Regions from separate parts of the Homo sapiens genome. Here regions 1, 2 and 4 are each linked to region 3. Evidence: fine-mapped expression QTL. A gene starts in region 3. Each other region holds a variant in brackets. All regions are shown on one strand. Distances are between the middles of the regions. Region 1 has its middle 78 kb from the start of MACORIS. Region 2 overlaps LOC105376481 (a long non-coding RNA gene). Region 3 holds the start of ARHGAP12 (Rho GTPase activating protein 12). Region 4 overlaps LOC107984219 (a long non-coding RNA gene).

The links. PIP is the estimated chance that this variant, and not a neighbour inherited with it, causes the effect.
Region 1: its variant is fine-mapped to the expression of ARHGAP12 in whole blood (TOPMed, PIP above 0.99).
Region 2: its variant is fine-mapped to the expression of ARHGAP12 in whole blood (GTEx, PIP 0.96).
Region 4: its variant is fine-mapped to the expression of ARHGAP12 in monocytes after R848 (Quach 2016, PIP 0.91).

What each region holds. Positions count from the first base shown.
Region 1 is chr10:31,781,558-31,789,348 of GRCh38, forward strand. No RefSeq gene overlaps it. Among named protein-coding and RNA genes, the nearest start is that of MACORIS, 78 kb to the left of the region's middle. The variant G/T (reference allele first, on the strand shown) is at 3,530.
Region 2 is chr10:31,051,288-31,059,078 of GRCh38, forward strand. The region is part of intron 1 of LOC105376481 (a long non-coding RNA gene); the gene reads left to right. Among named protein-coding and RNA genes, the nearest start is that of ZNF438, 23 kb to the left of the region's middle. The variant C/T (reference allele first, on the strand shown) is at 4,405.
Region 3 is chr10:31,925,144-31,932,934 of GRCh38, forward strand. ARHGAP12 (Rho GTPase activating protein 12) reads right to left here and starts at 3,688. Exons shown (of 20, transcript NM_018287.7): 1 at 3,540-3,688. It overlaps LOC107984219 (a long non-coding RNA gene), which reads left to right. Exons shown (of 3, transcript XR_001747415.2): 1 at 1-2,900; 2 at 3,519-3,679. RefSeq lists a silencer at 3,360-3,859.
Region 4 is chr10:31,970,793-31,978,583 of GRCh38, forward strand. The region is part of intron 2 of LOC107984219 (a long non-coding RNA gene); the gene reads left to right. Among named protein-coding and RNA genes, the nearest start is that of ARHGAP12, 46 kb to the left of the region's middle. The variant CACACAT/C (reference allele first, on the strand shown) is at 3,710.

The DNA of each region.
Region 1 (7,791 bases), 140 kb before region 3:
AAATATTTATTTCATATGGGGAAAATTTCTTCGCAATGATCTGTTCTAGAAGAATAGGGCAATACAACCCTGAAAAAAAAATGTTAGATTTCTTATTCTTCAAATGTGATTTAAATGTTTCTACTTTTACCACTGTCTCCCCTGTAACCAGCTACCAAAGAAATCAGCTTCATGGTTTTGGGTGATGGGGAGTGAAGGTTTCTTAGTCTGTTTGTTTGTTTGTTTTGTTTTGTTTTTGAGACAGCATCTTGATCTGTTGCCCAGGCTGGAGTGTAGTGGTGCAATCTCTGCTCACTGCAGCCTCGAACTCCTGGGCTCCCTAATAGCTGGGACTCCAGGTGTGTGACACCACGCCTAGCTTATTTTTTGTTTTTTATAGAGACAGGGTCATGCTGTGTCACCCAGGATGGCCTTGAACTCCTTGGCTCAAGCGATCCTCACGCATCTGTTTCCCAAAGTGCTGGGATTACAGGTGTGAACCACTGAGTCCAGTTGCTTCGGTTTTAAGATGGTGTTCCTTAGAAGCAAAAAGATAATAATTAAAACAACATCAATGCCAGCAGTGGCTAAAATGCAGTTTCTAAGGCCTTATAAGTTTAATCCTAGCTCATTCCACCACAGAGAAAAATCAGTAATAATAATAGAAGTATCAATAATAATAAAGCTGTAGTGAGGGATACAGTCCACAGAAAACAAAGCACTTGCTGAATTTTTCTACCTTTTCATTCTATGCTATTGTCAATAACACTCACTAAACAATATTTCATTTCTCATCACACTCAGAGTCAGGGAAACAATTTAGCTGAACCTAACGCCTAACTATTCCAAGTTCTCAAAAAGTATAACTATGCATTTATATATCATATTCATCCCCGGGGCATCTCAGAGACAAAGTATCTCTCAGATCTGAGAGCAGCTGTCTGATGGTCAGACCATCAGTCAAGTCAGAGAACATGGAACCATGTCAAGAAGTAGCTTCCCTGGTGACTAGAAGAGGAGGGCGGGAAGAAGGAGGAGCGAAAAGGTGGTAAAACTATCAGGTACCATGCTCACTACCTGAGTGATGGGATCATCCATACCCCAAACCTGAGCATTACACAATATACGCAGGTAACAAAACTGCACGTGTACACCCTGAATCTAAAATAAAAGTTGAAATTGATAAGTGTTCCATTGCTGTGAATTCAGGCTTGTGGAATTTTTACATTTAGTTGCATTGAATTCAGATAATAATCAATGCTGTATTCCACTCAGTTGACCCTCTGCTGCCGAATATAAACAAATCAAACACAAGCAGAATGTTCACTATCCTGCTTCTCATAGCACTTGGGCAGGAGCCAACAGGGCATGTCCCTGTATATGCCACAGCTTCCCGTAGCCCTGAGCATAAGTAACAAGCCTTATCTATTGGTTGTATTGCCAGCAGCAAAGCCTGGGCTAAGGCACCAATGACCCTGGATGAGAACTAAAACCTGTAGGAGAAACTGATCTGTAGGTGATCCAAAATTCACATGAAAAAATGAACAAATAAGTCAAGAAAGTTATTGAAAGGATAAGTAATGGGGGAGGGAGAAAGACAAGTTCTACAAGCTAGCAAAATATTCCATGAAGTCTCAATAAATGGTATAACATGAGCATATGAATTATAGACCAATAGTATAAACAGGAAGTACTAAGATGAACCAACATATGGAAATTCAATATGTGATAAAGGTGTCATCACAAGCCGGTGGGGCAAAGATGACTTTTAAGTTGGGATAACTGGGTAGGACAGATATTTTATATATTTAGAAACATAGAAAGTGAAACATGGAATCATAAGAAAACACAGGTAAATTCCTTTTTATCCATGGAGTGAGGGAAGATCTAACCACAGGTCAAGATCCAGACACTTTTTTTAAAGAAAAGAATAATAAATTCAACTATATAAAAATAAAAAATGACTATATGACAAAAAGAAAAAATCGAGAGAAAAATGACAAACTGGCAAAAAAATCAACAACTTACATCATGGACCAATAGTACTCAAACTTTTTGGTCTCAGGAACACTTTGCCCTCTTAAAAATTATGAAGGGTTTCAAAAGTTGTGTTTATGCAGATTTTATCTATTGCTATTTACCATATTTGAAATTAAAATGGAAAAACTATTTTTAAAGTTTTTTACATATTTTTAATGTATTAATTGAAAATAAGCCTATTTCACATTAATATAAATATTTTATGAAAACTAGTTTTTTAAAACAAAATATAGATATTACTTTATACACTTTGTAAATTTCTTTAATATCTGCATTAATAGAAGACAGCAAGATTCTCGTAGCTGTTTCCACATTCAAGCTGTTGCTTTGATTGAAGAATACGGGGGAAAATCCAGCTTCACACATATATGTAACTGGAAAAGGGAGGAGTATTTTAATAACCTTTTTAGATAATTATAGATATTTTTCATAACAATAAAATGTGACAAGTGGAATCTGAAACCATATCAATGAACTTTTCATGCTTTATTAAATTATAACCCACCATTCTATCTTGCAATTTGAATGGCTTTTTTATCCATCATGTATACTATCACGCGCGCATTGCTCTCCTTTAATACGAACTGGTTCACCACATTGTGTTGACCTTCCAAAGGTTGACATATCTCATTATACAACATTTTAAAAATCAGATTTGTTAATATTTCCAGTAATCTCATCCCAACCAGCCTTGAATACTGAGAAGCTGTCAGCTCATTGTGGTGAATACAAGTTTTTAAAATTCTAGTTTTCTCTTGAAAGCCTGAATTTTGCCATTAACAAATACTCCTGGTCCTTTCCCTTAAGGTGACAGGATCACTTCATTTGTTTTTGAGAAAGCATCTGCCAGTTATCGGAGTCTGAGTAACCAGAGATTGTCCGTAATTCTTTCAAATAAAAAATGATCCTCCATGAAAAAGTAGCTAGTTCAGTTTGTGACTCAAAAAGTGACTTCTGGCCAGGTGTGGTGGCTCACACCTGTAATCCCAGCACTTTGGGAGGCCGAGGCAGGAGGATGGCTTGAGCTTAGGAGTTCGACACCTGTCTGGACAACATGGCCAAGCCCTGCCTCTACAAAAAATACAAAAATTAGCTGAGCATGGTGGCACACTCCTGTAGTCCCAGCTATTCAGGAGGCTGAGGCAGGAGGATCGTGTGAGCCAGGGAGACAGAGGCTGCAGTGAGCTGAGATCACACCACTGCATTCCAGCCTGGGTGACAGAGCAAGACTCCCTCTCAAAAAAAAAGTAACTTCCTCGAGATAATCATCATACTACGGTAAAAATGTTTTATGTGGCCAGGCATGGTGGCTCATGCCTGTAATCCTAGCACTTTGGGAGGCTAAGGTGGGTGGATCACGAGGTCAGGAGTTCGAGACCAGCCTGACCAATACCATGAAACCCCGTGTCTACTAAAAATACAAAAATTAGCCAGGCATGGTGGCACACGCCTGTAATCCCAGCTACTCGGGAGGCTGAGGCAGGAAAATCGCTTGAACCCGGGAAGCAAA[G/T]GTTATGGTGAGCCGAGATTGTGCCACTGCACTCCATCCAGTCTGGGCGACAGAGCAAGACTCTGTCTCAAAAAAAAAAAAAAAGAAAAAAGAAAAGAAAAGAAATGTTTTATGTGCACTTCATATTTCAACACACAAGTAAAAATTTGAGAAAACTAAAAATGTATTGCTTCATTATTGACATTTTTAAATGAAATTGCCTTTTTTTTTCTTCAAGTACGTGAAGAATACAATGGTATTAGTTTGATGCCATTTCCTTGATTCATGAGGTTAATATCACTAATAAGGGAAAATCTCACATCATATACCTTCTGATGTGCTAGGCTGAGAAGATACAATCTGCATTTCACCTGAATCTTATCAGATAGGCCTAACTTGGGTTGCGGGATATTCTGCAAAAGAAATGACCTGAACTCTTCAAGAAAGTCAAGTCATGAAAGACCAAAAAGTGGGAAGAAAAAAGACTAAAGAAACTGTACATATTCAAAGAGACTGAAAAGACACGAAAACGCAATGCATGATCCTGAATTGGAGCCTTAAAAAATTAAATTAGTAAAAGGGAAATTCTGGAAATATTTGGTTTGAATTCAGACTCTACATAGTAGTATTGTAGTGTATCAAGTTAAGTTTTCTGATTTTGATCATTGTCTGCAGATATGCAACTGAGTATGTTTTTGAAAGAAATACATTCTGAAACATAAAACATATAGCACATATAAGAGAGAAGTGAGAGAATGACTAAGTGGTCAGCTGGAACAGGGTGAAAGATATATGGGAGTTCTTTGCACTATTCTTGAAATTTTTCTATAAGTTTGAAATCATTTCAAAATAAAATTTTTTAAAGAAAAGACGGGAATAAAATACCAGTTTGCTTATATTTGTATAAATACTGAAGTGATAACAAGAATAAAATAGTGACCTGGAGTGGGACATGGAGTGAATGAGAACAGGGTGGGAGTGAAATTTCTCATGTATTATATATCTTTTAATATCATTTTGACTTTTAAACCTAGTATAACTAAATTTCTTTTTTTTTCTTTTTTTTGAGACTGGGTCTCACTGTGTCATCCAGGCTGGAGTGCAGTCATGCAATCACTGCAGCTGTGAGTTCCTGGGCTCAAACCATCCTTCAACCTCAACCTCAGCCTCTTGTGTAGCTGGGACCACAGGCACAGGCCACTGCAATAGGGGTCTTAATGTGTTGCCCAGGCTAGTCTTCAACTCCTGGTCTCAAGTGATTCTTCCGCCTTGGCCTCCCAAAGAGCTGCGAATACAGGCATTAGCCACCATGTCCAGTCTAAATTAAATCTTAAAAGTTCGTTATTATTATTTTTTAGAGACAGGGTCTCGCTCTATCACCCAGGCTGGAGTCCCATGGTGTGATCATAGCTCACTGCAGCCTTGAACTCCTGGGCTCAAGCGATCCTCCCACCTCAGACTCTGGAATAGCTGGGATTACAGGCATGCAGCACCACACCTGGCTAATTTTTGTATTTTCTGTAGAGAAGGGGTCTCACTGTGGTGCCCAGGCTTGTCTCAATCTGCTGTCCTCAAGCGATCCTCCTGCCTCAACCTCCCAAAATGCTGGGATTACAGCCAATGAGCCACCCTAAAAGTTAAAAGTTTAATTTTTGAATATGTGTTTTTGCCCACTAGAATTGGCTCTGAATGTGTATCCACTTTTCCAGAGACCATTAAAACAATATGCCATCTAGCTACACAACTTTGGTTAATTTTGCTAGAGATAAGAAAGTGAACATTAAATAACCCCAAGAGGCAACTTTTCAAGCCTGTTTATATAATTACATCACAGATTTTATTAAATAATAATAAGGAAGCACTAAAATATTTACATTTTGCATTGACCCAGACAAGTTAGGTAACAGTTTATCCCTTCTATTTCGTTAATTTTTTCCTTCAAAGAGCCAGCTCTCCAGTCAACTTATTAGTTAGACCATTTTTCTGTGTTCTAATTAATTAAGTTCAAATTTATGTTTACAAATTATTTTATTTTACTTACCTTGGGTTTATTTTTAATGTTCTTTTAGTATATTCTTAAGTTAGGTCATGTATTTATTAATAAATAAGGCTATACCTTTTCTTCTGAGCACCCATAAGTTCTGATAGAGTTTTCTTATCATTTGTTTTTTTATATATTCAGTAATGTCAGCCAAGCTTTTCTTTTTTTTCTTTCTTTTCTTTTCTTTTTTTTTTTTTTTTCAAGAGAGGCTCTTGCTCTGTCACCCAGGCTGCAGTACAATGGTGTGATCATAGCTCACTGCAGCCTCAAATTCTTGGGCTCAAGTGATCCTCCTGCTTCAGCCTCTGGAGTAGCTGGGACTACTGTAGTGCATGCCACCACTTCTCGCTAATTTTTAAATTTCTTGCAGAGATTAGGTCTCACCATGTTGCCCAGGCTGATCTTGAACTCCTGGGCTCTAGTGGTCCTCTCTCCTCACCTCCCAATGTGCTAGGATTACAGGTGTGAGCCACCGTGCCTGGCCAAATTTTCCTTTTTGACTCAAGAGCTGAGTTGAGAGGTTTTTAACATCAAAGCAGTAGAATTTTTGTTCCTGATCTGGTTTCTGCTTTGTACTTTAGTGTACTGTGATCAGAGAATGTCTATATTCACTACCATTGAGAATTCACTGAAGTCTTCTTTGAGGCCTTATGGAAAAATTGTATGAATGTTTCATTGCCACTTAAAAAACAATGAGTTGTTATGTTCAGACATACACACACATATTTCTACCTTATCAATTATGATATTTAGGTATTTTTTAGTCTTACTTAATTTTGGTCCTCGATGTTTAATGAACTAAAACACATGAATTAAATAATTAAGATGCAGTGTTTTCTATATTTTTTCTTGTTTCCCCTATAGCTCTTCTCTGTGAATGCTGATGCTCTGTTATCTGGTGCACAGTTATTCATAACTTTTTTTTTTTTTGAGACAGACTCTAGCTGGAGGCACCCAGGCTGGAGTGCAGTGGCACAATCTCGGCTCACTGCAACCTCCGCCTCCCAGGTTCAAGCGATTCTCATACCTCAGCCTCTCTCTATATAGATAGTTATGTATCTATTCTATTATCAAGGTCTACAACTCCAACATTCAATTTTCAAATCATAATCCCTATATTAGTCTTGGCCTCCTATAAGTAATTTGATTCAATGCTTACTGCCATTTTTTATTGTTTTTCTCATTAATCTCCTGGTTATCTGAGTTTATCTTCTAACAGTATTCAGAAGTAATCACTATGCTAACTTTTGACACTGGTCTTGATTGCTGTTTTTGAAATTTTGAAATGGAATGTATAACCTCTGTCTTCAGTCTGTCATTCAACATTGTTTGTGAGATTCATATAGGTAATACGTGTCAGTAGTTAACTGGTTTTCATTACTGAAAATCAGTAATATGTTTAGATAATTAGTAATATGTTTAGATGTTTTTCTAGTCTTTATTCTGTTCAATTGTTCTGTCTGTATCTTTATATTAATATTAAATTACTGTAGCTGTACAGCAGGGCATCCAATCTTTTGGCTTCCCTGGGCTACATTGAAAGAACAATTGTCTTGGGCCACACATAAAATACACTAACACTAACAATAGCTGATGAGCTAAAAAATAATAATAATAAAAATCACAGCAAAAAATCTCATAATGTTTTAAGAAAGTTTGCAAATTTCTGTCGGGCTGCATTCAAAGCCGTCCTGGGCCGCTTGGAGTTGGTAGACTGTGGGTTGGACAAGCATTCTTTAGGGTAAGTTTTGATATCTGTTTTGATATCTGATAGAAGTTTTCAAACTTTACCCTCCTTCAACATACTTTTGACTGTTCTAAGTTCTTTTTGATGCCATACACATTTTAGGATCAGCCTTGACCATTTCCAGAAACGAATCTGCCAGGGTTTTGTTTTTTTTTTTTTTTTTTTTTTGAGACAGAGTCTTGCTCTGTCACCCAGGCAGTGCAGTGGGGCTATCTCAGCTCACTGCAAGCTGTGCCTCCCGGGTTCACACCATTCTCCTGCCTCAACCTCCCGAGTTGCTGGGACTACAGGCCCCCGCCACCTTGCCCGGCTAATTTTTTGTATTTTTAGTAGAGACGAGGTTTCACCGTGTTAGCCAAGATGGTCTCCATCCCCTGACCTCGTGATCCGCCCGCCTCGGCCTCCCAAAGTGCTGGGATTACAGGCGTGAGCCACCGTGCCCGGCCTCTACCAGGGTTTTAATTGGGATTGCATTGAATTTATAAATTAATGTTG
Region 2 (7,791 bases), 870 kb before region 3:
TTCAATTTTAATTATGAATATAAGTTCTAAATAAATATTTAGTAATGCAAATTTGGCAACATTAACATTAATTATAAGTATAAACTGTATTTATAAGTGTATTTATAAACTGTATTTATAAGTGTATTTATAAACTGTATTTATAACTGTATTTATAAACTGTATAAACCTATATAGGTTTATTAAGGGAATATGTATACATACATATGTATACAGTTTTAGGACATATGTAGTAAGTACTACATATGTGTTATACTATTAGTTATGTATTCCAGGAATATAAGGATGAGTCAACATTATGAGATATATTTAGTTTATCATATTAACTATTAAGGGAGGAAAATATATGTATTTATAAATATACACAAGAAACACATTTGATAAACTTCAGCAGTGATTAGCCAAAAACTCAAAACCAGCAACCGTAATGTTAAAAGGCAAATACCTAAAGCAACTATTGTTAGAATCAGGAAATAGGTCGGAATACCTACTGTATTAGTCAAGGGTCAGTCAGGAAGCAGAAGCTACACCAGTTATTTTAGCAGAGAGAATTTAATCTAAAGAATTATTAACTAGGTATTAAATTGTTCATGAGGTAGCTAAAAGAGAACTTGAGATCACAGAAATAGGAACTGCAGAAAACTGCTACTGCTCTGTGATTGGGTGGGATCAAGAAAAGAGGTTGGATTTATTAAAGCTTAGGAGCTTGGAGAAGGGCTGTCTTGGAAATGAAGCTCAGACTTCTGAGTAGAAAGTGCTGATAGTATCTCCGGGGGAGATACGGCATTTAGAAATACTGTCAGTTGGGTTCACTTGTTGCTACAGGAAGGAACTGCTGCTGCCAAGATGAAGAAGCATTGGTGGGATGCCACTCATATGAAAAAGAGGCAAATAGGGAGCCCCCAAAAAAACATGCAGGAAGGAACAAGCCTCTTCCTCCTCCTTCAGCCTGTGAGCTCCGTGAAGCACCTCTATCAGCACAGTTTAATGGGAGCCAACTTGCAAAGCAAAAATAAGGTTTGAAGTTCTAGCCCAGGCATTACCAGCCCAGTAACAAAGGCTGGCTTTGGAAGTAAGACACAATAACTTAATAAATGGCATATTTACTATCATCGTTTTATTCAAAATAGTTTTGGGATTTAGGCTAACCCGGAAGGTTTAAAAAACCCAAAATAAACCATAATAATATAAATGCTTGGGAAAGGGGGCAATTCATTTTATTTGCAAAGACATTATTATACCTAGAAAACCCACAAAACTGTATTAGAACATGTTTTAAAATAAGAGAATTAGGTAAGGTGGCAAGATATAAGATAAATATACAAATATAATGTAATTTGTACTAGCTACAACTTTGTTGTGTATCAAAACAATCATACCACAGTGGCTTACAAGAGCAAACGTTTATTTCTCACTAACTTTACATGAGGGCTGATGGTTGGTGTTGGGAAACTCTCCTCCATATGTTACTCTTTTTCCTACACATCTTGCTGGGTGTGCTAAGCATGCAAGGGCCTAATCATTTCCTACCCAGCCTTTTCTCAGGGTTATGTTTACAACAAGCAACCTCGAGGGAGGAGGTGATTTTTACCTCTGGGACAAAGAGCTGGCTTGCTCACTACTTGCTATGAAATCATGGGAATTTAAGTTCTATATTCCTTTCCTGTAGCGCAACCCAGCATTTGTTCAGGCATCCATCTGGGCCTATTCACATCATCACTGAAAATGAAGACTCAGGGAACCAAAACAGACATGCTGACATTCTGACTACTGCTTTTGCTGTAATCAAGTGTTTTGTCTCTAACCCAAGTGTCTTCATTCAGCATCCATGAAACTGGCAAGTTAACATGTTGGCTTGAAAGTAAGGCGAAATATGAGACCCTTCCCAGTTCTTCACAGTTGGCTGCTACACTGCTTCATGCTGTGTAGGAGGTCAGTAGGAGGTCTGCTTCACAAGCTGTCTCATTCTGGGATCTAGACTGAAGAAGTAGCCCCTACCTGGACATTTCCATGTCATGGAGCAGAAGCTCAAGAGGCCAAAAGAAATCACAGAGCTGATTTAAAGTTTCTGTTTGGATGTACTTGTGTCACATCCACTCACATTCATTGGCCAAAACAAATCCCATGGCCAGCCCAAATTGGGGGAGGAAGCATGCTTCATCTCTGAAGGTATTGTAAATTATACCCAACATGCATGAATGTATAGTCCTCTAACCAAGGAGGGAGTAGTTAATGACAAATAATATAATTTACCATACTCACAAAAAGTAGTTAAATATAAATGGAAAATAAAGCCCTCTTCCCAACAGCCAAGAAAAAAAACTCTAAAAAAATTTAATAAAAAATTACAGTGTCTATATGCAAATCTTTTTTCTTGAAGAATATAAAGTAAACCTTAATAGATGAAAACTTATGCCATGTTACTGGATGGAAATATAGTATGATAAAAAACTTCTCTATTTTAATGCAAATTAAATCAGAATCTTAGTTTATGGTGTTCTTTAAAATGAAAATGAGTTATATATCCATCTATGGACCAGCTAGATCATCTATGAGAAACTGTTAAGTGATAAAGCAAGTTGCAAGAAAATGTGCAATATAATACCATTTTATTTTATAAGATAAAAACATTGCATGTTTGTGTGTATGTTAATGTAAGTATGAATACATTTATAGGTACATGAAGAATAGGGTAGATGGATAACTTGATTTACATCAGAGGGATTAGTTTGTAGAGAGGCTGGGGGAATGATTCTTTTTTCTTTATGTATCTTTATATTGTTTAACAATGGAGTTCAGTCCAACAGTAAATTTAAAAATCACACTTTGGGAGGCTGAGACGGGCTGATCACCTGAGGTCAGGAGTTCAAGACCAGTCTGGCCAACATGATGAAACCCCGTCTCTACAAAAATACAAAAATTAGTCTGGCATGATGGCGGGTGGCTGTAATCCCAGCTACTGGGGAGACTGAGGCGAAAGAACTGTTTGAACCTGGGAGGTGGAGGTTGCAGTAAGCTGAGATCGTGCCATTGCACTCCAGCCTGGGTGACAGAGCGAGACTCCATCTGAATAAACAACAACAACAAAAATCAGAGAATCATAAAAAATATTTTAAACCTAGCCTAAGTCTCTATTAGAAGGTAGCATCTTACTTTATTTTATTTTATTTTATTTTATTTTATTTTATTTTATTTTATTTTATTTTATTTTATTTTTTGAGACAGGGCCTCATTCTGTTACCCAGGCTGGAATGCAGTGGTGCAATCATAGTTCACTGCAGCCTCAAATTCCTGGATGCAAGCAATCCTCTTACCTAAGCCTCCCAAGTAGCTGGGACTACAGGCATGCATCACCATGCCTGGCTGTTTGTTAAAAAAAAAAGTTGTAGAGAGAGAATTTTGCTATGTTGCCCAGGTTGGTCTGGAACTCCTGGCTTCAAGTGATCCTCGCTCTTTGCCTCCCAAATTGTTGGGATTACAAATGTGAGCCAATGTATCCAGACTTAGTTTTTATTTTAGATTCAAGGAGCACATATGCAGGTTTGTTACATGGTATATTGCATGATATTGACGTTTGGGTTTCTAATGGGTGGCATATTTTAGACCTGTAACATATTTGTACTCATAGAATGAACAAATAATGTGCTTATAAGGTTCAGATATGAGAAGAAACCAGGCAGTCATGTAGCAACTGCCATTAGCAGCACTAATTACTCTTCAAAACCAGCTTGGCATTCTTGAAAATACCCCTCATTAATATTTTTCTTCTATAAGGCAGCTGAAGATGGCAGCCCAAACACACAAATCTGATGAGACTTACTTATATATCAAAGTTAGATCCAGGTATATTGCAAGCAACAGGGATTCAACTTCCTCAGTGTGTTTCATGTGAAGAAAACACCAGTCAAAGGAACTATGTAGCCCTCGCTTAGCTTTAATGCATTTAAATCCAATTTACATAAACCTTATTTTTATATGGGTAGGCTTTATTATTATAGAGTGCAATTCTCTGCATATATAATATTAATATGGGAACATATGCAGAAGATGTAATGGCTGTAAAGATTTTGTATAAAGTAGCTGTATTAGTCTGTTGTCACACTGCTATAAAGAACTATCTGAGACTGGGTAATTTATAAAGAAAAGTTTAATTGACTCACAGTTCTGCATGGCTAGGGAGGCCTCAGGAAACTTACAATCATGGCTGAAGGTGAAGGGGAAGCAAGGCACGTCTTACATGGCAGCAGGAGAGACAGAGTGAGGGGGGATGTTTCACACTTTAAAACCATCAGATCTCATGAGAACTAATTCACTATCACAAGAACAGCAAGGCAAGAATCTGCCCCCATGATCCCGAGAGGTAACAGCATGCTGGCAGCCCTCGCAGCCCTCACTCACTCTTGG[C/T]GCCTCCTCAGCCTTGGTGCCCACTCTGGCCACACTTAAGGAGCCCTTCAGCCCGCCGCTGCACTGTGGGAGCCCCTTTCTGGTCTGGCCAAGGCTGGAGCTGGCTCCCTCAGCTTGTGGGGAGGAGTGGAGGGAGAGGTGTGGGCGGGAACAGGCAATGCCTGCCTGCTTGGGGGCCAGCTAGAGTTCTGGGTGGGCGTGGGCTTGGCAGCCCCTCACTCGGAGCCGCTGGCCGGCCCCCCCTGCCCCAGGTAGTAAGGGGCTTAGCACCTGGGCCAGCAGCTGCGGAGGGTGCGCCAGGTCCCCCAGCAGTGCCGCCACACAGGCGCTGTGCTTGATTTCTCCCCGGGCCTTAGCTGCCTCCCTGCCGGGCAGGGCTCGGGACCTGCAGCCCGCCATGCCTGAGCCTCCCCGTGCAGCCATGGGCTCCTGGGCGGCCGAGCCTCCCCAACGAGCACCGCCCCCTGCTCCACAGCGCCCAGTCCCATCAACTGCCCAAGGGCTGAGGAGTGTGGGCACAGGGCGGGACTGGCGGGCAGCTCCACCTGCGGCCCTGGTGCAGGATCCACTGGGTGAAGCCAGCTGGGTTCCTGAGTCTAGTGGGGACTTGGAGAACCTTTCTGTCTAGCTAAGGGATTGTGAGTGCACCAATCAGCACTCTGTGCCTAGCTCAAGGTTTGTGAACACACCAATCAGCACCCTGTGTCTAGCTCAGGGTTTGTGAATGCACCAGTCGACACTCTGTACCTAGCTAATCTGGTGGGGACTTGGAGAATCTTTATGTCTAGCTAAGGGATTGTGAATGCACCAATCGGCACTCTGTATCTAGCTCAAGGTTTGTAAATGCACCAGTGGGCACTCTGTATCTAGTTAATCTGGTGGGGACTTGGAGAATCTTTATGTCTAGCTAAGGGATTGTGAATGCACCAATCGGCACTCTGTATCTAGCTCAAGGTTTGTAAATGCACCAATCGGCACTCTGTGTCTAGCTCAGGGTTTGTAAATATACCAATCAACACTCTGTATCTAGCTAATCTAGTGGGGAGGTGGAGAACTTTTGTGCCTAGCTCAGGGATTGTAAACACACCAATCAGCACCCTGTCAAAACAGACCGATCAGCTCTCTGTAAAACAGACCAATCAACTCTCTGTAAAATGGACCAATCAGCAGGATATGGGTGGGGCCAGACACGAGAACAAACGCAGGCTGCTCAAGCCAGCAGGGCAACCCGTTCAGGTCCCCTTCCACACTGTGGAAGCTTTGTTCTTTAGCTCTTTGCAATAAATCTTGATTCTGCTCATTCTTTGGGTCCACACTGCCTTTATGAGCTGTAAGGCTCACCGCGAAAGTCTGCAGTTTCACTCCTGAAGCCAGCGAGACCACGAACCCACCGGGAGGAATAAACAACTCCAGACGCGCCGCCTTAAGAGCTGAAACACTCACGGCGAAGGTCCGCAGCTTCACTCCTGAGCCAGTGAGACCACGAACCCACCAGAAGGAAGAAACTCTAAACACATCCGAACATCAGAAGGAACAAACTCCGGACATGCAGTCTTTAAGAACTAACACTCACCGTGAGGGTCCGCGGCTTCAGCCTTGAAGTCAGTGAGACCAAGAACCCATCAATTCCGGACACAATCCAATCACCTCCCACCAGGCCTTTTCCCCAACACATGGGGATCACGACTTGAGATGAGATTTGGGACACAGAACCAAACCATATCACTAGCCGTTTTAATCACTGGAGAAGAAAATTTCACAATGCTGAAGAAATTTTCAAAGAACTATGTGTTCTGAGTGCTGCCACAAGTTTATTTGAGTGGATATGTAGAAGCTATTCCAGAATGTTTCTTTTAATCTACAGTCACACGTTAGAATGTCTTACCTGCTGACATCACACTTTGAGTTCTGCAAAAGATCAAATCATTGCATTTCTTTTTTTTTTTTTTTTTTTTTTTTTTTGAGATGAAGTGTCGCTCTGTGGCCAGGCTGGAGTGCAGTGGTGTGATCTTGGCTCACTGCTACCCCTGCCTCCCAGGTTCAAGTGATTCTCCTGCCTCAGCCTCCCGAGTAGCTAGGACTACAGGCATGCACCACCATGCCCAGCTAATTTTTGTATTTTTTAGTAGAGATGGGGTTTCACATGTTGGCCAGGATGGTCTCGATCTCTCGACCTCAGGTGATCTGCCTGCCTTGGCCTCCCAAAGTGCTGGGATTACAGGCATGAGCCACCGCTCCCGGCCTGCATTTTCTTATCATTAGTTTGATGCATCTTATGATTTCCCCCAAGAACTTTGGGCTACACCATGTGTTTCTGCATGACTTGTGGTTAAATAGGATGCAGAATAAAAGGAGCTGTTTTCTCAAGCCTTTGGTGCTACAACTAAACCTGATAATATCTTTGAAGCTCTGTCAAAATTCTTCCAAACAAATGAGATATTAAAAATTGATAACAGGACCAGGTGTACTGGCTCATGCCTGTAATCTCAGCATGTTGGGAGGCTGAGGCAGGAGGATAACTTGAGGCCCAGAGTTCGAGACTAGCTTGGGCAACATAGCAAGACCCTGTCCCTACAAAAAAAAATAAAAACATTAGCCAGGCATGGTGTTGTATGTATGCCACTTGTGCCAGCTACCTGGGAGGCTGAAGTGGGAGGACTGCTTAAGCCCAGAAGGTTGAGGCTGTAGTGAGCTATGATTGTTATCTCTGCACTCCAGTCTGGGTGACAGACAGTGACCATGCCTCTAAAAAAATAAAATAATTAAATTTTTTAAAAACTTGATAAGAATGTGCATTTAATATTGCTCCAATAATGTGGAATTCACAGTGAGGAATTTGACAGGAAAAAAATCAGGTATTCACTGCTAAGCATCCAAAACCCTGCCTGGCAATCTAAGAGAATTGTTCATATTATTATCAAGGTTGTCAATCCCATGGAAAGTATTAGAATACATGCCTTGCTTTGTGAGAACTTGAATGCTCATGGCAAAGTTCTCATGTTCTATCCTGAAGTTTCCAAGTTATCACAAGGAAAGATATTTGGCCAAAGAATATAGGTACTTCATTTTCAGAGTGTTAAGCTACCAATAACTTCACACTGTCAAAACTAATACCTTTCACTGGGGCTTTGCATATTTGGCAGATTCAGTTGGAATTTTGTACATGGAACCTGAAATTTTAAGAGGTGGATCCTGATATTAGTGTGTATTAAGTTTACTTCAGGCAGTTTTAACCAAAATCCAGCTACAGCAAGAGCAAATTGCTGCTAAAATTGGCCTCTTCTCTTTCTGACTTAATTCTTGAAAGTGATTTCATGGGGGAAAGAATGTAAAACATCATCTAATTTGCCTGCAAGATAAATTCAGGTAATAATTTTTGTGACATTA
Region 3 (7,791 bases):
GAAATAGTGCATGGAGCATGGCAAGTGCTTTAAAAGTTTTAGGTCTTACTACAAAAAAACTATTATCATCATCCTACCAGACCCAATACTGGCCACCATCCTGCCCAAACAAGCTGTAGCAGTACAAGTGATTAATAATCTAGATCACTGGATTCTCAAACTTTTAGTGAGCAATGGAATAATCTGAAGAACTTTTCTAAAAATAAACTTCTTATTTTAAAAGAGTTTTAGATTTACATAATTACTGCAAAGATAGTCCACAGAGTTCCCATGTACTCTGGACCCAGTTATCCCTATTAACAACTTATGTTAGTATGGTACATTTGTCATATTCAATCAACCAACACTGACACATAACAATTTCCACACTTCATTCAGATTTCCTTAGTATTCTCCTAATGTCCTTTTTCTGTTCCAGGGTCCCATCCAGAATACCACATATACATTGTATAGCCATATCCCAGAGCGTTTTCAAACCACAGATTACAGGCTCTAGCCCTAGATATTCTAACAACAACCGGTATGAGGTGGGGCCCTAAAATTTACATTCTCAAGGATTGCTGATGAGGCCAATCTGAAAATACACTAAGAGTAACATTGGTCTACACTTTTAGACTCCAAAACTGTTGTTCGATACAGCAGTCACTAGTCAAATGTGCCTAATGCAAATTGAGAAATGCTCTAAGTGTAAAACACACTTGATATTTCAAAAAACCTGGTCCAATGTAAAGAACATAAAATATCTCATTAATAATTTTCCTATTACATGTTAAAATGATATTGTGAATATACTAAGTAAAATATATTCATTTATTTCACTTTTTTTCCACGTGCTTACTTTTTATAATGTGAATACTAGAAACTTTAAGCACAAGTAATTTATATAGGCATTACATTTCTATTGGACAGCAGTGGTCTGTGGTCTGGCAGAACAGCATCCATATGACCAAGTGGATATTAGAAGTGCAGGTGATTCCTATGCACGTTAAAATTTGAGAAGCACTAGATTATCAACAGGGGAAGGAGGCTTAGAGACTACACCATTTGGCAGTTCAGTTCAATTAAAGAGCTAATCAATTACAAAACGAAACTGCAGAATATTCATTAAGTCCATGAAGTCAATGAAAGTAATAGGGAAATGGCTGAATCACAGCAAAGCCATATACCAATGAGCCGGGGCCAGCTAACTGAAGAAAAAAAAAAAAAACCACAAGGATAGTGGCCCAATAGGTTCCTCAAAAGAGGTAATCTGAAAAGCCCGATTTGAAGTACAGTGATGCTATGTCGTACTACGACACCTTTCACATCTGATTCATACTACAAAATAGTGCATATTTGCAATTCTAGCCAAAATTGTTAAATACAGGACAAAAGTTTAATTTCACTTTTCTCTCCCATGATTTATTGTAAAACTGTGATGCCCATTTTCTCAGGTAAGTAAAATATTAGTACTACTGTTTAATGGTTAAACAGATCACCACTATTTAGTTTTTACTCCATTTAAAAATTTTAATCACCCGTATTATTTTCAGTAATATCACTTACGTAGAGTACTTAAAAATTTGTAAAGTTCACTTTCTATCAGCCTACTAAAAAACCACTGAGCAGATTCTTTCTAATTAAAGAAAAGTCAAATGATTAACTACAAGTAACATGCTGTTTTTCTACAGCACTTAATCTATTTTCATTTGCACCTCGAAACAACTGGTATTAGCAAATATAAAACCGAAAGAGATGCAATGTATTGATAATTATATATGAACAACTAATATATATATAACTAACTATACAGACGGCATTATCTTAACAATCAATGAGTCATCAGTCTTCTCCAGCTTGATGAAGTACGAACAGAAATCTATCAACAAATATTGGCGCATAAATATACATACACACATTATATTACACTTCTGGGGTTTCTTTTTCCCCCACAGAGAAACACTTTTAGAACAGTGGAGCCGCATGCAACCAGGGGTCGCACATATGTGCGCAGACGGTCTGGCTCGTCAGGTGGCATGGGTGGGGGTCACGCTTTCACTGCCTGCTTTGGGCTCTCAAAACCCAGCTCTGAAACGTTTCCAAGGCAAAATAAAAATAGCCAAAATGCCTATTCAGACCAGAGGAGGTAGAGGAAGATGACCGATTCTGTAAAACACCCTCCTACAGATAAAGAAAAGGCGATATGGGCAAGTACACACACATCTAGGCCATCGTTCCCGACTTTTAAGTATGAAAGAGGCGTGGCTAGGGGCTAGATACTTATTTTTAACACTTCCATTGAAACACCCGGAGTCTCCCAAGGTCTAACCTCTAGAAGTCGGGTGGCAGAACCTGAATCAGAACCCGAGTGAGCCTTCCTTCCTCCACCACCTCCCTTTAGGAACGCATGCCTAAATAGTCGATAAAATCTACTTCTCAATGTCATGATTAACCCAAAAGCCAGCCACAACCAATCGTGTTATTAGAGTGCTAAAAGCCTCTATCCACAACAAACACTCCACTTGGGATGACATTAAAACTTTCGATAAAGGTGTACTTTCAACGTCGTGCTTTAGCCTTTGAAAATACATTTACAAAACTGCAGCTGCAGTCAAAAGGAAAACATCACACGCCTCGAAAGCTGAAGGGCGTGCCTTTTTCTCTAACGAAGACCGTGTGGCCATTTCTTCTCAAAGGGTCTGCAGTCACTTAAGATAGCAACGCGTAAAGGACAGCCGTTCTGAGAAGACAACCAGCTCCCCTGAGATGGGAGGCGGGCTGCACGCTGGTAAAGAGGATTTTTCAATTCAAGGACTTTGAGGAGATTCCGCCCAGATAAGCTGGAGGGGAGCGAATGCACGTCCATCCAGCAGGGGCAGGGCACCGGGAAAGACCGCAAAGAAGAAAGTGTCCGGTTTAAGGTCAACAGTCCTCGAGGGACGCCCCAGGTGGATTCCCCGGGTGGGCTCCCCGGGTGGGTGGAGGCCTGCAAGCCCCACCGCGATTAGGGAGTGGGCCCAGGGCGCGGGAGGGGCCGGGCCGGCCTTTTGCGCACACACACACACACACACACACACCCGCCTTTTGCAGACACACGCGCGCGCACACACCCGCCTTTTGCACATAGACACGCACACACCCGCCTTGTGCACACACGCGCGCACTCTCCCGCACTCACACACACACCCGCGCACCCTCACACTCTCCTCCCTGGGGGCGGGGCGGGCGGGCGCTGCCCTCACACAGGAAGTCAGGAAACCCAGGGGGCAGAGAAGCCACAACTTCGGGCCATTTAAACCCTCTCGCCCACGTCAGCCAATAGGCTGCGCCGGCCCCCTCCCCCTCGGCGCCTAACCCCCGCGCCCAGAGCCCCTCGCTGCGCGCCCGACCTCCCTTTGCGCGCACCTCCGCGGCGCCGCCGCCGCCGCCGCCGCGCCTCCCGCACACGCCTCCCCCCGACTCCACCGCCCTCGGCGGGCACAGCCCGGCCCCGGCGCGCCTTTGTGCAGCGCCTCGCCAACCTGCCCTCCGTCCGCCAGGACCCGCGCCCTGCACCTCACCGGGAGCCCGGCGGCCTCGCAGCAGGCGGCTCCCTTCTTAGTCCGCCCCGCGGCTGCGGGTCGACGACGCGAGCCCGAAGAGCGTTCACACGGCTACGGCCGCGGCCGGCCCGTCCCCGCAGGCTGGCCTCTGAGGGAGGGTAAGTTACAGGGCACGTCGGAGCGCGCCGGCGCGGGGGCGGGGCTCACGTGACGCGCGGGGGCGGGGCGGGAGGCTCACGTGATGGCCCGGGCGAGCTGGGCGGGCGCGGGTCTCCGGGACGGTCTGGGGTGGCTAGGGGGTGCGGCGCCCGGCGGGGATCCGAATAGGGGGCAGCCAGCGTACGGTGTGGGAACTCGGGCCGGCGCGGGAGCCTGCGGTCAAGGGGGCTCAGCACTTTGTAAACAAGGAGTGGGAAGCGTTAAAAAAACGCTCGTAGGGAAAACCAGGGAAGGGCGGACATAGCGCCAGGGTGGCAGGAATGGAGCCCGGGCAAAGACGGCCCTGCCGTGGGCCCTAGCGCTCCCTTCGTCGGCCCCTGGAGCTGCGGCCGGGCGTGGGTCAGTCGTTCACGGGCCCGGAAATTCCACTGGGACACCCGAAAAAGTGCTGCACGCCGCCTGAGGGAGACGGAAAGGGACCCGGGGCACTGAGTCCATTGCTGGGGTCGCCAGGGTACGTGGCAGGACCCGCTGTGCACACTCGGGACTGAGGAGACCCCTGGGACGCGGAGAGCCGCTCCAGGGCAGAACCAGTCCGTCAGCATTTAGCCTTCCACGGGCCTGAGGGTGCGAGCCCTGCGGGGGCCACAGGGTCATTGTCCAAAGTCATCCCCGTTTGCACTGTGGCAGCACCGAACCCGGAAGTAACAGCTTTGGCAGGTCTTTGATGGTGATCCAGTGGCAGGAGGAGCTCAGCTGGAATGGGAATCAGGAAAGAGACCTGGCTTCTGCCATTTATTGGCACTTCACCCTTCTGAACCTCAGCTTTCAAATGAGAGCTGGCTTCTAGGTCTAGAATACAGTGAGTGTGAGAAAAATAACTGAGAGGCGTTGGGACTTCAGTAACTACTCATTCCTTAACCAGTTGTTGATTGTGCCTGTTGTGCCAGGATGAAATATTTGTTAATAATAGAGACCAGAAAGGAGAGGGGGGAAAAAACAAGCATATGTATGATTCAAGCAATGAAGAGCTACTCTCCGGAGTTGGCTCTTTCCTGTGCTTCACTTCGTACTTGAAGATGCCACAATGCCTGGCTTCCTTATCAACCAGCTGAACTCCGAATTGTGCCTTACAGGATGCGAAGAATCCGGTAGGGCAGTGGCAAGACTTTAACAGCTGTGGTTTACAACCTTCTTATTAAATTAAGTCTAATGCGAGCTAAAGTGTTAAGATAGTCTCCATTTAGAAAGGAAAGAGGCTTACAATGAGAATTTTTGAAAAATAAGCCTGAGACTGTGCTGTCTCTATCGTTGCATTTGCTTTTCACAGTCCTTGGCACCCACTGCCTTTTTGTCTCCCTCGGTTTCTAACCCGTTCTGTTTTCTTGCATTTGTTCAGTATAAGGAGTATTTCCTGTATGCTTTGGCAACTATTTTCCATAGACTCTGCTTGTGTTCTCCTTATAAAACCAGAACAAGAGCAGTGCAAAAAAGAAAACGACCCTGATAGGAATGCGCTGATAACCTTACTTTCCCTACTCTCCAAACCTGAATTGGGCACCCTTGGTTTTAGCAAGAGATAGAACTCAACAGTTTGCATACACTTGCGGATCTGCCTGTAACCCCACTTCCTATTTCACAGCCTAATCTCGGATGATACCACAATGCCCACAGTATGCTGATCACCACCAACAGCAGATGGAGGCGGATAAAAAGAGCTTTCTCGCTAGTGTGTTGTTTTAAAAGAACCTGATGGAGAGCTATGATCATATGTAACACTGCCTCTAGTTAGTTTTTAAATAACACTTGTAGCATATGTCTGGCGCCTGTGCTCAGGATTTCAACAGATCATTTTCAGGATTTTGACATTTAACTGGCTTCTTATGAAGTAGCAGAGAGTTCCAAAATGTAGAACTGAAATATAAGCTCCACACACAGGCAGAGATTTGAGTCTGATTTGTTTGTGTGTATATCCCAAGTGCCTAAAAGCACTTGGCATACGGTAGATGCACAATAGATTCCTGTTAAATGTATTTTTAGGTGAAAATGTAGTCTGTACTTTGCATAAACTTGTCCTACTTTCTTCCTAGTTCTTTAATAAGTAACCTACTTTTCATTATATATTTTTAAATGAAAAAACAAAATTATATCTGGCATCACTACTTTGGCTGGGCTATAAAGAAACAGGAATTTGGCAGTATGTATTAAAATTACAAATGCATATATACTCGGAGCCTTGAATTTCATTTCCAGGGATTTATGCCACAGATGTTTCCACACATAAGAAATAACAAGGTGTTTCTTATTGTTGAGAATAGCAAAAGATTGGAAACAAGCTAAGTATCTATCAACAGGATACTAGTTAAATTATGATAGAGCCATATGTTTGAACATTGTGCAGCTGTTAATCAAAAAAACAGAAAGTTCTTTGTTTTAACATTAAGATCTCCAAGATTTTTTTGTTAAGTGAAAAACACAGAAATACGGTACAGAATATTGTATTAAATTGTATATGCATTAAACTAGGACAAAGTAACATGAGGTATGAGAACACAGTAGATGGAAAGCATAAGAAATAGACTTCATTGTATTCATATTTAAACTTTTTGATATTCAAAATTTCAGAATGTTTTATCTATTCAAATAGTGAAAATGTTTAAAATTTTTCTGGCATCTTTTTGTTGTTGTTGTTGTTATTAAAACATTCAGGCTTCTTCTGTTTTATAAAAGTTTACCTGAGTAAAATAAACATATCAAGGAGGCTGGGTGCAGTGGCTCATGCCTATAATCCCAGCACTTTGGGAGGCTGAGGCGGGCAGATTGCTTGAGCTCAGGAATTCAAGACCAACCTGGGCAACATGGCAAGACCCCATCTCTAATGAAAATACAAAAAAAAAAAAATAGCCAGGCATGGTGGTGTGTGCCTGTGGTCTCAGCTACTCCAGAGGCTGAAGTAGGAGGATCACTTCAACCCAGGAGGTGGAGGTTGCAGTTAGTCAAGATTGTGACACTGCACTCCAGCCTGAGTAACAGAGTGAGACCATGTCTCAAATAAATAAATAAATAAATAAATAAATAAAATCAGGTAAGCTAGTGCTCATAGGCAAACTTTTGAAAACCTCAGAGTTTTTGTTCAGATTGAATGATGTCTGTTTCTTACCGTAATAATTTAAAATCCAGGTACATTTATTTTGAGGCTTAGTATACATTTTATCAAATGTATATAAATTTTCAGAAGTACTCTATTTTTCTTCAAGTTTAGTAGAGCCTTCCTTGAACAAGTTTTAACAAATTGGATCCTCCATTTTAAACAATAAAATTAGAATTTCATGGATCATTTGTCTGTTAATTAAGGTCAACAAAATATATTTTGGGAAAAACGCTAAAGGCATATGTTTCTCGTGTATCTGTTCACTCACCCATTTTGTAATATCAACTGCTTCTTGTTTCCATGGGTTACACAGATGCCCTGTAAATGATTTTGTCTGATATGTTTCAGTATTTGATTATATTTATTTGTGGGCTTAATTTCCAGAAATCTCAAAGAGAATAATGAGTACAATAGCAGTCAGATTTGCATAACACATCTTTAAGGGTTTTAGGAGATTTATTAATATTTTCTTGTGAAATCTCACTGCTTTCACTATATAAATTCATATGATCAGTTTTAACTATTATTAAAGACAAATATTAGTACTTGTGGTCAGGTGTGGTGACTCACACCTGCAATCCCAGCACTTTGGGAGGCTTAGGCAAGTGGGTCACCTGAGGTCAGGAGTTCAAGACCAGTCTGGCCAACATGGTGAAACCCCATCTGTACTAAAAATACAAAAAATTAGCTGGACATAGTGGTGCACGCCTGTAGTCCCAGCTACTCAGGAGGCTGAGGCAGGAGGATTGCTTGAACCCGAGAGGCAGAGGTTGCAGTGAGCCAAGATGGTGCCATTGCACTCCAGCCTGGGTAACAGAGGGAGACCCTGTTTCAAAAAATAATAATAATAATTAGTACTTGTAATAGTTGATTATACAAATTAGGACATTCTTGTCATACCCAACTAACTCAAAGAGTCCAGGAGTGGGGGGAAAAATCACTCAGGGCACATAGCACCAG
Region 4 (7,791 bases), 46 kb after region 3:
TCTGCCCGGCCGCCCCTACTGGGAAGTGAGGACCCCTCTGCCCGGCCAGCCGCCCCGTCCGGGAGGGAGGTGGGGGGAACAGCCCCCCGCCCGGCCAGCCGCCCTATCCAGGAGGTGAGGGGCGCCTCTGCCCGGCCGCCCCTACTGGGAAGTGAGGAGCCCCTCTGCCTGGCCAGCCGCCCCGTCCGGGAGGGCGGTGGGGGGGTCAGCCCCCCGCCCGGCCAGCCGCCCCATCTGGGAGGTGAGGGGCACTTCTGCCGGGCCGCCCCTACTGGGAAGTGAGGAGCCCCTCTGCCCGGCCACGACCCCGTCTGGGAGGTGTGCCCAGCGGCTCATTGGGGATGGGCCATGATGACAATGGCGGTTTTGTGGAATAGAAAGGCGGGAAGGGTGGGGAAAAAATTGAGAAATCGGATGGTTGCTGGGTCTGTGTGGATAGAAGTAGACATGGGAGACTTTTCATTTTGTTCTGTACTAAGAAAAATTCTTCTGCCTTGGGATCCTGTTGATCTGTGACCTTATCCCCAACCCTGTGCTCTCTGAGACATGTGCTGTGTCCACTCAGGGTTAGATGGATTAAGGGCGGTGCAAGATGTGCTTTGTTGAACAGATGCTTGAGGGCAGCATGCTCGTTGAGAGTCATCACCACTCCCTAATCTTAAGTACCCAGGGACACAAACGCTGCGGAAGGCCGCAGGGTCCTCTGCCTAGGAAAACCAGAGACCTTTGTTCACTTGTTTATCTGCTGACCTTCCCTCCACTATTGTCCTATGACCCTGCCAAATCCCCCTCTGCGAGAAACACCCAAGAATGATCAATAAAAATAAAAAATAAAAAAAAAAAAGAAAAAAATAAATAAATAAATAAATAAATAAATACTCAAAAAAAAAAAAAAAGATATTAGTTGACTTAGAAAGATATGATGAGGGAAAGCAGATTACAAAAAGTAGCAGGTACAATATGGTATAGAATATGAATTCATGAATCATATTATATTCATGAATCAATTCATGAGTTCATATTCTATACCATATTGTACCTGCTACATAACATGTGTGTGTGTGTGTGTATATATGTAGCAGGAAAGATACACACCGAAAGGCTATAATGACACTCTGAGTGGTTTAATTGCAAGTGATATTTACTCATTTACTCATGTGTGCACACACACACACACACAATGTTTTTTCTATAATTAACATGCCCTATTTACCTATTTATGTCAGTTTTTTATACAGGTTAAAAAAAAGAAAGCATTGAGGCCTCAAGTAGGTTTAAGTACAGAAAAAAAAAAAGCCATGAAGTCCCACTGAAATCTGTAGCACCACATCATATCACACGTAGGTTTAATAACCTGCTCAGGAAAAACAGATGTCAAACTTTTAGGCTGGGTGTGGTGGCTCACACCTGTAATCCCAGCACTTTGGGAGGCTGAGGCGAGACACAGAGTGTCCCAGTGATGTGGTGAGAGGGGAAACATGTTAGCATAAGAGCATGTATAGTCCACAAAGGACCCATGATGGAGTCTCACAGGTCTCATTCCTAGCAAATTTCATGTAAAAGTTGATTTTATTTTATTTTTTGAAGCGGGGTTGTCACCGGTGAGCAGCAACTATCTGAGCTGGTGGTGTGGGTGTTACGAAAAATTTATTTACCAAGACAGTTGTAGGTAAAGAAAGGCAAATTTATTAAAGAAAGTATGAAAATACACGGCAAGAGAGCAACAGGCAGGCCAGCCCAAAGGAGCCGATGACTTCCAAGAGACAAAGGCATGCTGGGGATAGTATAGAATAGTGCGTATGCTGTATGCTGAGGAAGGCTCTGTGCAGTAGTGATAACACCAAGGTTGCGGTGAGCTAACTTGCAGGTTTCTGATAGTTGGGTGCAGGGAGATTGTGAGTTATTTGCACAGGAGGGCTACGTGTCCTGGACCATGAAGAAAGGCAGACTGATAGCTTATCTGCTGCTTCTTTTTGCTTTCCCCTGGTCCTGCCAGCTTGATTCCTTTTCCCTAATTAGGACTCCACAGAGGTCTTGCTTTGTCACCCGGCTAGAGTTCGGTGGTGTAATCATAGCTCACCGCAGCCTCAAACTACTGGGCTTAAGCAATCCTCCCGCCTTAGACTCCTGAGCAGCAGGGACTACAGGCATGTACTTCCATGCTGGCTAATTTTTGTATTTTGTTTTAGAGACGGGGTCTTCACTATGTTGCCCAGGCTGGTCTGGAACTCCTGGCTTCAAGAAATCCTCCTGCCTTGGACTCCCAAATTGCTGGGATTACAGGTGTGAGCCACCATGCCCAGCCTCAAAGTTTGGCATCTGTTTCCCCTGAACAGTTTATTAAACCTACATGTGATATAATGCCGTGCTAGAGATTACAGTGTGACTTTGTATGTTTTTTTTTTTTTCGTGAGACAGAGTCTCACTCTGTCACCCAGGCTGGAGTGCACTGGTGCAATCTCAAACCACTGCAACCTCCACCTCCTGGGTTCAAGTGATTCTTGTGCCTCAGCCTCCTGAGTAGCTGGGATTACAGACGTGTGCCACCATACCTGGCTATTGAGTCAAGGAAGGGTTTCACTACATGAGGTTGTTTGCTTGGCACTTTGCAGTTGCATTCTGCACAGCATGAGTTGTAAATATTTGAAAAGATTTCATGCTTCTCATAAGTAACCAAACCAAACTACATAGAAATATGCCCCCAAAATCCAGAACCCTTCTAAAGGGAAGGCTACAAACATACATACTTCTAACACAACCACTTTGTTGAGAATCGCCTCAGAAAATTTTGCTAAATGACATACTTGATTCAAAGAAATGCAATATCAGAACTTGAGAATACATAAGTGTTTAAGTTCCAGCCCATTTTTGCAGGTAACAGTTTATAAAATACTCTGGAATAAACAGTGAAGATTATTCTCTGTTTCGGGGTAATTATATACAGTGTTTCACTTGATTTTGTTTTGTTTTGTTTCAGACTGGGTTTCACTCTGTTGCCCAGGCTGGAGTGCAGTGGCACAATCATAGCTCACTGCAGCCTCAAACTCCTGGGCTCAAGTGATTCTCCTGCTTTGGCCTCCCAAAGCACTGGGATTACAGGTGTGAGCTACAGTGCCCAACCCAATGTTTCACTTTAAATAGTCCACTGAAATATAAGAAACAATTCATTTCAACAAGGATATGATGGGTAGCTACTGTTTCAGTTGCTGTGCTAGGTTCAGAAATCAAAGATGAATAAACCTCAAAAGCTAAAAGGAGGATGTCAAATGTTCCCAGTATAAAAAAATGATAGGGACCAGGCGTGGTGGCTCACACCTGTAATCCCAGCACTTTGGGAGGCCGAGGCAGGTGGATCACCTGAGGTCAGGAGTTCGAGACCAGCAAGGCCAACATGGTGAAACCCTGTCTCTACTCAAAATACAAAAAATTAGCTGGATGTGGTGGCAGGCACCTGTAATCCCAGCTACTCGGGAGGCTGAGGCAGGAGAATCGCTTGAACCTGGGAGGCAGAGGTTGCAGTGAGCTGGATCGTGCCACTGCACTGAAGCCTGGGTGACAAGGGCAAAACTCTGTCTGAAAACAAAGATAGGCTAGGCACGTTGGCTCACACCTGTAATCCCACTTTGGGAGGCCAGCGAGGGAGGATGGCTTGAGCCCAGGAGTTTGAGACCAGCCTAGGCAATATAGGGAGACCCTGTCTCCACACACA[CACACAT/C]ACACACACACACACACACACACACACACACACTCACACACATTAGCCAGCATGGTGGCATATGCCTGTAGTCCCAGCTACTCTGGGGGCTAAGGTGGGAGATGGCTTGAGCCCAGGAGGTCAAGGCTGCAGTGAGTCATGATCACATCACTGCAGTCCAGCCTGGGTGACAGAGCAAGACTCTGTCTGAAAAAAACAAAACAAAACCACTGAAGAAATGCTAAATGTTTCAGATGATGGATATGCTAATTACCCTTACTGGTTGCCATACGTTATATGTATGAAACGTCACTATGTATCCCATAAAAATGTATATCATTATTTTTCAATTTTAAAAATGATAAATAAGCCATGATCTTTGCACACAGGCCTTAGAGTTCAGTGAGGGGAACCAAGCTCCACACTGTGGATATGATGTCAGGGAGCATGGAGAGGGGATGCTGACGTGGGATGAGTGCTGGGCAGGTTTGGGAGGAGATAATGCTTGAACTGAGTCTTGCCAGGCAGACAGGGTGGAAGGGAAAAACGTCAAACTGACATAAAAGTGCAGAGACATGCAAGAGCCCAGAGTTTAAATAACTGCAAATAGTTCCTGAAGACAATTGGACTTCCACTTCTGGCCAAGGTGGAGTGACAGGGACTGGATTCAGCCTCCCATGTGAAAGGACAGAAAAAACAAACAAAATACGTAAAACAACAGATTTCAGACACTGCACACCAGGCAGCAGAGAACAATGATTCCTGAGAGAGGGAAAACAAATGAGGTGAGGCCTGTGATTACCTGAGCTCATTGCATGGAGAGAGCATTTAGAGAGGGGAAACGTGGGTGGAGCCTGGGGGCCCAGGCAGGCCATGGCATCTTGAGTTCACAGGGCAGAGTTCCAGAGGGGAGACTGCGGCACAGAGAGAGAGCTCCAGAGATCGGGGCCCTCAGGTTTTCAGCTGAGTACTAATCCACGCATGAGCGTGCAGAAACTACTCAAGACTCAAGAAAGAACCATGAGATCAGAGCAGAGGGAATAATCCTTGAATGAAAAACCTTGTAATTCACAGGGTATCAGGTAGAGTACTCTAAAGAGCATTTCCTCTGTGGTCTAGAATAAAGGCTGCTTTCATCTTGCCTAGCAAAGCTTAGGAGAAGCTTCAAAAAGATTAAACTGTTTCCAAACAATTTAACTGCTTCCCAGAATAAAGCTCAAGAAAATGTTTACAGGAATAGAAGACTAACACTTAAGGATGTGAAATTCACAGTGTCTAGCATCCAATAAAAAATTTCTAGGCTGCAAACAAAGAAAATACAATCAATAATGAGAAAAATCAATGTATAGAAACAACCCAGAAATGCATGCACATTAGTCAAAGAATTAATAGACAAAGTCATTAAAAACAGTTATTATAACTATATTCCATGTTTAAAGTCTACAGAAAAGACTGAGCAAATTGAACATCTAGATATGAAAAATGCAATATCTACAGTGAAAAATATGCTGGGACCAGGCATCATAACTGTAATCCCAGCAAATTGGGAGGCCAAGGCTGGAGAATCACTTGAGGCCAGGAGTTCAAGGCCAACCTGGGCAACATAGTGAGATGCCGTTTTCACAAAAAATACGAGGAACTAGCCAGGTGTGGTGTCACCCACCTGTAGTCCCAGCTAGTCAGACGCCTGAAGCAGGAGGATTGCTTGAGCTCAGAAGTTTGAGGCTGCAGTAAGCTATGAAAGTACCACTGCACCCTAGCCTGGACCACAGAGTGAGACCTTGTCTCTAAAAAAAAAAAAAAAAGGGAGAGAAAAATACACTGGATGGGATTGAGATTGACAGGAGTTTAGACAATGCAGAAGAAATGAGTAGTATAGTTGAATATGTAGCAATAAAAACTATCTAAAATGAAACAGTGAAAAAAGGTTGAAGGCAAAGCATCAGTGAGCTATGAAGCAACTTCAAGTTGCATACACTGTATCTGAGGCCAAAGTTGATTGATCCATGGCTGGACACCTTGAACATGGCTGGGCCAGTGAGTTTTAGGACCCAGAATCAAACTAGTCTCACTCTGGGTGACTAAAGCAGAAACATGGAGATCTTTGTGTTTTCCACCACATAGGCCGAGCAGCAGAAATCATCAATCTGCAACAAAGGGAGAAAGAAACAGACATTCAGAGGAAAGTTGATGTATAATTTGGAGAAATGGGCCCGGCGTGGCAGTGCACACTGGTAATCCCAGCACCTTGGGAGTTCGAGGTGGGCGGGTCGCTTGTGGTCAGGAGTTTGAGACCAGCCTGGCCAACACGGCAAAACCCCTTTTCTACTAAAAATACAAAAATTAGCCAGGTGTGGGGGCGCCCTCCTGTAGTCCCAGCTACTCAGGAGGCTGAGGCATGAGAATTCCTTGAACCCAGGAGGTGGAGGTTGCAGTGAGCCAAGATCATGCCACTGCACTCCAGTCTGGATGACAGAGCAACTCTGTCTCAAAAAAAAAAAAAAAAAAAAAAAAAAGAGAAATAAATCATTGCAATTTCCAGGTCTTGGTTCGAGTTGTTTCTGAATCTAGCTCTATCCCTGTGCTATTTGGCTTCTCCTTAGAGCCCATGAAATAAGGGTTTTTTGTCACATAAAATGAAGAAGTCCTTAGCTTATATAAAGATGATGCCTTTGATTTTTGGACATGTTAAGATTGGAGTGTCTGGGATATCAGTGTGGAAATCTACACTAGGCAGATGAATGGACTTACCTAAAGCTCAAATTCCCATTTTTATTCTATTAATCTATGTTTACCTAAATCCATAGGAATGTATGAAATTGACAGTGGAGAACCTATAGAGGGAGACAAGATAAAGCCAAGGATGGAACCTGGAAAAAAACCACATTAAAGAGACAGGAAGAAGAGCTTCCAGGAAAGGAGTCTGAGCAGGAACATCTACCAAGCTAGGTTGAGAGCACAGCATTGAGGGAATCGAAGGAGGAGAGAATTTAAAGAAAAGGGAAATGGAGAACAGTGTCAGATTCTTAAAGGGCATGACCCTAAAACGTTCCTGACCCTTGACTGACAACCACCAACTTCCTGTATTTCTAACCTTACTTCCTTTTCTCTGCCCATATTTACCACACATACGTCCATATTTCCCTGTTTCTGATCTCAGCATGCTATCTTAACCATAGTGATTAGTCTCTTTTAGGGTAGTTAGATTTTGGCGATCTTAACCCTGCATTCTTCTACAATATCTCACCCAATTTAGACCCAATTAAAGACCCAATCAAAGCAGATCAACAGGGAAGGGCTGTGAGCCCTACTCCTCCAAAAGATAATTGCATGCCAATATGACTGCCAGAGTCAAGGAAGGAGCTGGAGGAGAACGTATGGTTTCAATGAGAGGAAATTGGCATCATCCACCTATTAAAGCTCTTTTAGGAGGCACATATGCATAGGGACAAAAGCTCATGAATGGCATCTATTTAGATTTGCAAAAAGCCTTTCACAAAGCTCCACACAAAAGACTGTTTTAAAAATTGAATCATCATGGTATGATGGAGACTGGTGCAATGCATGAGGAAGTTGCTTAGAGACAAGAAACAATGGTTCAGGAAAAGGCACTTCTTGGAGGAAGGAGTGTAAACATTGGCATTCCCCTATGAGTATCCTTGTTTACTATTTTTATGAATTATTGAAGGTGGGTAGGTACAGTGACATTAAGTTCTTCTGATCATGAAAATCCCCACTATATGAGAATAACCTAAAGTTAGTGTGAGGCTATGTGAATAGGCAGAAAATATTGCACACATCAGCAAAAAGAAGATACTGAATTTAGGGAAAAATCATCTAACTTATACTTAGAAGATCCATAGGCCAGGCGGGGTGGCTCACACCAGTAGTCCCAGCACTTTGGGAGGCTGAGGTGAGAGGATCGTTTAAGCCTAGGAGTTCAAGACCAGCCTGGGCAACATGGCAAAACCCCATCTCAGCAAAAATACAAAAATTAGCCGGGCATGGTAGAATGTGCCTGTTGCCTTAGCTACTTGGGAGGCTAAGGTGGGAAGATTGCCTGAGCCCTGGAAGGTCAAGGCTGCAGTGAACCAAAG